Regions from separate parts of the Homo sapiens genome. Here all the other regions are linked to region 3. Evidence: fine-mapped expression QTL. A gene starts in region 3. Each other region holds a variant in brackets. All regions are shown on one strand. Distances are from middle to middle.

Region 1 (2,760 bases), 98 kb before region 3:
CTCAAGTGGCTGGGACTACAGGCACATGCCACTATGCCTGGCTAATTTTTTGTATTTTTAGGAGAGATGGGGTTTCACCATGTTGGCCAAGCTGCTCTGGAACTCCTGGCTTCAACTCCCCCTTGGCCTCCCAAAGTGCTGGGATCACAGGCATGAGCCATCACACCCAGCCTCTACTCCCTACTTCTATGAGATCAACTACCCCCACCCCCGCGATGGAGTCTCACTCTGTCGCCCAGGCTGGAGTGCAGCGGCATGATCTCGGCTCACTGCAACCTCTGCCTCCCGGGTTTAAGTGATTCTCCTGCCTCAGCCTCCTGAGTAGCTGGGACTACAAGCTCACACCACCACGCCCAGCTATTTTTTGTATTTTTAGTAGAGACAGGGTTTCACCATTTTGGCCAAACTGGTCTCGAACTCCTGACCTCGTGATCCACCCGCCTCAACCTCCCAAAGTGGTGGGATTACAGGCATGAGCCACTGTGCCCAGCCCGAGATCAACTTTTTTGGCTTCCATGTATGAGTGAGAACATAGGGTATTTATTTTTCTGTGACTGGCTTATTTCATTTAAGTCCATTTTATTTCGACTTTCAGTTCAAGATGACCTTAAACTTGCTAGCAGACAAATTTTCAGTGATTATTCTCTAATGGATGGCACCTGACTACAGGCCAAATAAGTCAGGGAAAATATCAAGTAGGAATCTCTAAACATTCTTAAAGGGTCACCCCACCCCTCCCTACAGATACTGCTCTGCATTTGAGGCTTATGGATGGATTTCCTCCACAAAGTCACTGTTGCCTCTCCTGTAGGCCTATTCTGACCCAGCCTGCATTAAGCACCCCTTTCATGGGTCTCCTCAGATGTCATGCATTCTTTTCCCCCCAGCACTTCTAGAGATGCGTTTTCATCTTCCCACTGACTTATCAGTCTGTACTCTCCACTAAATTGTGAGCTTCTTTTTATCCCTAAGGCCTAGCAGGGAATTAGTCATGTGTCCACAAATATTTATTTGAATGGCTATTCTGTGCCAGGCACTGTGCTAGGTGCTGGAGTTGTAATGGTGACCAAAACAGCAAATACTGACATTATGGGATTTACAGTCTGTTAGGGGAATCAGTCATTAAAATAATACACAAATAACTAATTAATTAAGATGGTGCTTAGGGCCACTTAATCCAAGTACTGGGGGCTAACAGAGCATATATAGCTTTAGCAGGACTTGGTTGAGTTCAGATGAATGCTTCCTGGAGGATATGACATTTAAGCTGATTTCTGAAAAATGAAAGCAAGTTGCCCAAGCAAAGTGTGTCTGTGGTGAAATGGGGATAGGTGGGGTGCTGAGACCCAGAAGAACCCTTCAAGTAGTTGGAACAGCACACAGAAGGAGGCTGAAGCTGGAAGTGGTCAGTGTGGCTGAGCTGCTAAGAGAGGTCAAGATCAGGCAGTTCCTCATAGGCTTGTTAAGCAGTTCAAACATTGCTTTAAAAGAAATGTGGGCCTGCCAGGTGC[G/A]GTGGCTCACGCCTGTAACCCCAGCACTATGGGAGGCCAGGTGGGCAGATCATGAGGTCAGGAGTTCAAGACCAGCCTGGACAACATAGTGAAACCCCCATCTCTACTAAAAATACAAAAGTTAGGTGGGTGTGGTGGCACGCGCCTGTAGTTCCAGCTGCTTGGGAAGCTGAGGCTGAAGAATCGCTTGAACCTGGGAGGTGGAGGTTGCAGTGAGCCAAGACCGTGCCATTGCACTCTAGCCTGGGCAACAGAGCGAGACTCCATCTCAAAAAAAAAGAAAAAAAGAAAAGAAATGTGGACCGGGCGTGGTGGCTCATGCCTGCAATCCCAGCACTTTGGGAGGCCGAGGTGGGCGGATCACCTGAGGTCAGGAGTTCGAGACCAGCCTGGCTATCATGGTGAAAACCCGTTTCTACTAAAAATACAAAAAATTAGCAAGGCGTGATGGTGGCGTGTGCCTGTAATCCCAGCTACTCGGGAGGCTGAGGCAGGAGAATCACTGGAATGCAGGAGGTGGAGGTTGCAGTGAGCCGAGCTCGTGCCGTTGCACTCCAGCTTGGGCAACAAGAGTGAAGCTCTGTCTCAAAAAAAAAAAAAAAAAAGAAAGAAAGAAAGAAATGTGAAAGCACTGAGGAGATTTTAGCAGCGAATGATGTGATCAGATGATGAGATTTGGATTTCTGAAAGTTGATCTTTCTTAGGCTGCTAGAAGAAGAATGGAATGTAGAGAAGCAGGAATGGGCAAAGGGAGATTAGCTAAGGCAAGAGATAATGGTGGCTTCATGAGTGTATGTGGAGTGAATGAGAACCAAAGTGTAGGATGCAAGGCCTGGAAAGTCCCCAGAAATCCCATCTCAGTTAACTAGGAAACTGAGTCCCAGAGTGGAACCATAAATGACTCAGTGCATTACAGTTCATTCACAGCACAGTTAGGACTACAAACCAGTCGTGCACTTTGTGTCTTTTCCTCTTTTTTCGTGGACCTTCCCATGTGACTCAGCTAGTTTTTGAATTAAAAAAAAAAGCAGTGCTTTACCAAGTGATGGATATATAAAGTTCACTACACTATTCTCTCTACGTTGATATGTTTGAAAATGTCAATAGTAATCAGGTTTATAAGAAGCAACACTTTAAAACTGTTGTGGCATAGGTGCTAACTCAAGGCCTTCCAAACAGTTTGGGAAAGGAAAGAGGTCCAGGGCTTCTTGGCACTCACATCCTTACATGGCACTCAATAATCTGCATC
Region 2 (2,760 bases), 23 kb after region 3:
GGCATGCAGATAGGAGAGAATGGAAGTTGTCTCAGGTCTAAGTGACCTGAGCCTGTATGTAAAATTAGTATACTTGTTTCGGTGGTTTTGAAAAGCAGTCATAGGAGGTTCCTCACAGTATTGGGAGGCGTGCTTCTTTTGAAATGTGCACAAAGAATATATATATATTAAATAGTTCTCTTGGTGTTTTTATATTGCTGTGAGCTTTTGTATATTCATGTTCTAATGATACTTTATTTTTCTAGGGTGCCAAGAAGAGTGCTATTGGTCAGCGCATTGTGGCAACTCTACCATATATCAAGCAAGAAGTTCCCATCATTATTGTGTTCAGAGCATTAGGTTTTGTGTCCGACAGAGATATTTTAGAACATATTATTTATGATTTTGAAGATCCAGAGATGATGGAAATGGTAATGTGAAAGCAAAATGTATTCACAGAGCTTTATAAGAGATTTAGAGTTACTGATTGTTGCTAACCTTAAAACATAGTAGAAAGCTGTTCTGAAGAGTAATTTAGCTGTCACAAATCTTATGCCATTTACTGTGTAGTGAAAGCTTTCAGCCCTGCCTGGGTCTCTTTTCTGACAGTTTGTTGTAAAATAGACATGAAAACCAGAGGCAGCTGGAGTTAATGACAGCAGCAAGAAGAAACATTGGTAAGGAAGCTCGCAGAAGCACACCAGCTTGGTGCAATTTAGTAAAAAGGGAAAATGAGTAGTTGATACCTGTTGTTTAACTTTTTATTTTGAAATAATTTCAGACTTACAGAAAAGTTACAAAAAGGCCAGTCATGGTGATTCACGCCTATAATCTCAGCACTTTGGGAGGCCAGGGCGGGAGGATCACTTGAGTCCACAAGACCAGTCTGGGCAACACAGGGAGACCTGTCTCTACAAAAAATGCAAAAGGTTAACCAGGCATGGTGGCATGTTCCTGTAGTCCCAGCTACTGCGGAGGCTGAGTTGGGAAGATCGCTTGAGCCCAGGAGGTGGAGGCTGCAGTGAACCCTAATCATGCCTCCCCACTCCAGCCTGGGTGACAGAGTAAGACCTTGTCTCAAAATAAGAAAAGTTGCAAGAATAATATATAAAAGTCTTATATGCTCTTCACCCAAATTCAACAGTTGTTACTTTTGTCACATTTGCTTTATCATTCATTCTTTCTATATATAACACATTTTTTTTCTGGACCATCGGAGAGTAAGTTATAGCCAATAGCCTCTTACTCCTAAAGACTTCAGTGTATATTTCCTAAGAATCAGTACATTCACTTAAATAATCGTAGTATAATCATTTAAATTAGAACATTTTACTTAGATACAATACTGTTTTTTT[T/G]GGGGGGGAGGATAGAGTCTCACTCCGTTGCCTAGGCTGGAGTGCAGTGGCACGATCTCGGCTCACCACAACCTCCGTCTCCCAGGTTCAAGTGATTCTCCTGCCTCAGCCTCCCAAGTAATTGGGACTACAGGCACGTGCCACCACGCCCAGCTAATTTTTGTATTTTTAGTAGAGACGGGGTTTCACTGTGTTGGCCAGGCTGGTCTCAAACCCCTGACCTCAGGTGATCTGCCCACCTCGGCCTCCCAAAGTGATAGGATTACAACAATACTGTTAATGTACAGATCTGACTCAGATTTTTGTCAGTTGTCCTGATAATATTGAAAACTATTAAGTAATAAGATCTGTACATTAATAGTATATAGTAATTCAAGTTTAATCTCTTTTATAGTTCAGAGTTCAATTCAGAATAACGCATTGCATTTTGATTATATGTCTTTTTAGTCTTTTACAATCCTTCCTTGGCCTTATTTTTTTTGGAGACAAGGTCGCGCTTTGTCGCCCAGGCTGGAGTGCAGTGGCACAATCTCAGCTCTGCCTCCTGGGTTCAAGCGATTCTCCTGCCTCAGCCTTGTGAGTAGCTGGGATTACAGGCACGTGCCACCACACCTGGCTAATTTTTGTAGTTTTAGTAGAGACAGGGTTTCACTGTGTTGGCCAAACTGGTCACAAACTCCTGATCTCAAGTGAGGGGCAGCCTGCGTAGGCCTCCCAAGTGCTGGGATTACAGGCATGAGCCAGCGTGCCTGGCCTCCTCGGCCTTTCTTTGTCTTTCATAACAAAGTATATAGAGGACAGGCCATTTATTTTGTAGAATTGTCCTCAGTTGTGTTTTTCACATATTTCCCCATGATTAGATTCAATTTATGCACTTTTTTGGCAGAAAAAATACTTAAGTAATATTATATGCTTCCCAGGGCATCTCAACAAGAGTCATGTGATGTCATTTTGCCCCATTAATGGTACTGTTAACTTTGATCGCTTCACAGTGGTGTCTGTTAGGTACCTCCACTGTAAGGTTACTATTTTTGTGGGAACCTTTTATGGGAAGGATTTTTGAGGTTAAATGTCCAGTTCCTTATAAATTTTTTCCATTGATGCTCCTTATCTGAACAGTAAATGATATTCTTAAAATTGTCTTAAATTGTCCAGAGCGCTTAAGACTACAGAGAAATCTTTGTCACAGATTTTGCAGGCTAAATCTTTGTCACAAAGTTAGAACAGGGAGTATATTTTAGTTATTTGAATATTTGTTGGTGTGGTTACATGAGAAAATTGGGTTCTGGTTAGATTTTACTTTCAGATTTTGCCAGTAGTTACATACCTTATTATTATTTGAGAAAGGGTCTCGCTCTGTCACCCAGGCTGGAGTGCAGTGGTGAAATTACAGCTCACTGCAACCTCGACTTCCCGGGCACCAGTA
Region 3 (2,760 bases):
GTTACAAAGCAAATCTCCAGAACAGGAACTTTGCTTTGTTCCCTGGTCTATCTCCAGTGCTTAGTGACTGGGAACAGAGACGTGCTCCATAAACACTTCCATTGAAAATTACTACAACACATCCTCAATTTTCCCTAGCAGTAAGCTGACACAGAAGAGAGGTGTGACCAGAGTGGGGAGAGAATTTGTAAAGGGAAGGGTACAGGCAGCCCGCAGTGGACATTAAGGGAGGATGTACTCGGTGCCTCGGCCAGGACCAGACGTCCACCTTGCCAGGAAACGAAGAGGGCGAGCCTCCTAAAACTCACCTGGCCAAGGGGAGATGGTGGCTCTGTCGATGGCCTCGGAGCCCTTGGCAGTGCAGTAATCGGACTCCAGGAGCGTGTTAAAGAGAGTGGATTTGCCGGCGTTGGTGGCGCCCACTAAGTAGACGTCCCCACGGTAGCGCCAGGAGCGCTGAAGGGCAGAGATCAACTCTTCCACTCCATAGCCGGTCTTGGCGCTGATCAGCCGCACGTCCCTGACCACTGTGCGGGACCAGTTCGGCGGATTCGGATTCTCCCCGTCCTGTGGCTCGTCCTTGACGGGGCGCTGTGGCCCTTGGTGGCCAGGGGCCAGCAGGAGCCCGGCGCGGGCACAGTCCTCCCACAGTCGCTCCCGCAGCCTCTGCCGGTAGCCAGGAGCATCCTGGGGCAGGAGGTCCACTTTGTTTCCCAGCACGATCAGCTGCTTGGGGCCCACCAGCGCGGGCAAGTCGGGCAGCAGGGCGTCGGGCAGGTCCAGCAGGTCCACCATGTAGAGCACCAGGGAGGGGCCGGGCCGCCGCAACGCGGCGCTCACCAGCTCCAGGTACTGCTCGCGGCTCACCTGCAGGCGTAGAGCGCGCCGGTGGTGCGACAGCAGCCAGCAGCGCTGGCACACGGTCCGTGCCAGCCCGCCGTCTGCCTCCGCCGTGCGGAGGAACTTCTCTCGGGGCAGGTAGCCGGGCACTCCGGCGTCCTGGCAGTGCAGCTCTGCCCCACAGCCCGAGCAGTTCACGCCGCTGGGCGGCAATGCCGGGTCCGGGTGCCCCACGACCGGGTGCTCCCGGGACCTGGCCCGTAGGTTTTGCTGTCGCCGCTCCTCCCGCCGCTGCTGCCTCTGTCGCTCCTCCTCCTCCTGCTGTTGCTGGAGCTCCTGCAGCTGCTTTTCGCGGGTGGGTTGCGGCTCCGGATCCAGGATGTACTCCGGGAACAGAAAACGCTCCTGCATGTCACCACCTTCTCCAAAGCCCTCCGTGTCCACGGGGTCATAAGGAAGCTCGCGTCCCAGACTCGATGAGTGCTGGAAGGAGGAGGCGGCAGCGCACCTCCTCTCCAGGAGCGGCTCCCGGAGGCCATGGCGCGCTGCCGTGGGAGCGGATCCACGAAGGAAAAGGCTCAGCAGCCTGAACGGTAGGCGAGCGGGCAGCATGAGGAAGTAGCTCCAAAGGGGCGGAGCCACCAGCGCGCACGCGCACTAGGGTCCGAGGCGCGCATTTGACCCGAGACGAAAGCGCGTGGGTACTTGGGAGCTGTCCTGGTTGGTTTTGCGTCTAATCCCGTCAGTTCTCGCGATTTAAGCTCTGAGACTGAGAACCTACTTAAAGCTATGGCAAAGGCACTGGAGGATTGAGCTAGGTGGGCAGAAAAGAGCAGTGAGTGTTTTGGGTTTTTTCACTTTCAGGCTTAACGCCTCACTGCTAGCACAAGCCGCCCTTAATAAATCACACTTAAAAAGGAGCTTCCGGGGTCGGGCGCGGTGGCTCACGCCTGTAATCCCAGCAATTTGGGAGGCCGAGGCGGGCGGATCATGAGGTCAGGAGATCGAGACCATCCTGGCTTACACGGTGAAACCCCCATCTCTGCTAAAAATACAAAAAATTAGCCAGGCGTGGTGGCGGGCGCCTGTAGTCCCAGCTACTCGGGAGGCTGAGGCAGGAGAATGGCTTGAACGCGGGAGGCGGAGGTTGCAGTGAGCCGAGATCGCGCCACTGCACTCCAGCCTGGGCGACAGAGCGAGCCTGTCTCAAAAAAACAAAACAAAACAAAAACAGAAAGGAGCTTCCGGCCGGGCGCGTGGCTCACGCCTGTAATCCCAGCACTTTGGGAGGCCGAGGCGGGTGGATCACCTGAGGTCAGCAGTTCGAGACCAGCCTGGCCAACGTGGTGAAACCCCGTCTCTACTAAAAATACAAAAATTACCCGGGCGTGGTGACCCTTGCCTGTAATCCCAGCTATTTGGGAGGCCGAGGCAGGAGAATCGCTTGAACCCGGGAGACGGAGGTTGCAGTGAGCCGAGATCGCTCCACTGCACTCCAGCCTGGGCGACAGAGCGAGACTCCATTTCAAAAAATAATAAATAAATAAAAATAAAAAATAGCTTCGTGTTTTGGTCCTTATAAAGGCAAATAAATTGAGCATCCCAATGTTGCGGATTCACAGGACGAACACTTTTTAATAATAAGTATACCTGGTTTTGTTTTCAGGTGTCGTTATTTGTGCAACAACATTGAAAAACAAGCAGAAATAAAACATTGACGGAACGGATACGACCGCAGATTGCGGGAGCTGTCCTCTCAATCAGCCCGGCAGCGGCGGCCCACAATTTACGCGTGTGCAACCCTAACCCCGGCCCAAGCTTGACCTACAATTTGCGCAGGCGCAGATCCTAACTTTGGCGTCCCTGTGGGCGGCCTTTGGTGTGAGACGCGTGGTATTCTGGGAACGTCGGAGACGGAAG

The links. PIP is the estimated chance that this variant, and not a neighbour inherited with it, causes the effect.
Region 1: its variant is the best candidate, but not a certain one, in a credible set for the expression of NOA1 in whole blood (TOPMed, PIP 0.57).
Region 2: its variant is the best candidate, but not a certain one, in a credible set for the expression of NOA1 in whole blood (TOPMed, PIP 0.81).

Annotation. Positions count from the first base shown.
Region 1 is chr4:56,877,786-56,880,545 of GRCh38, forward strand. No RefSeq gene overlaps it. Among named protein-coding and RNA genes, the nearest start is that of REST, 29 kb to the right of the region's middle. The variant G/A (reference allele first, on the strand shown) is at 1,512.
Region 2 is chr4:56,999,372-57,002,131 of GRCh38, forward strand. It overlaps POLR2B (RNA polymerase II subunit B), which reads left to right. Exons shown (of 25, transcript NM_000938.3): 7 at 246-410. Among named protein-coding and RNA genes, the nearest start is that of POLR2B, 22 kb to the left of the region's middle. The variant T/G (reference allele first, on the strand shown) is at 1,335.
Region 3 is chr4:56,976,134-56,978,893 of GRCh38, forward strand. It overlaps NOA1 (nitric oxide associated 1), which reads right to left and starts at 1,473. Exons shown (of 7, transcript NM_032313.4): 1 at 309-1,473. The coding sequence starts at 1,452. RefSeq lists enhancers at 706-765, 1,146-1,215 and a silencer at 966-1,045.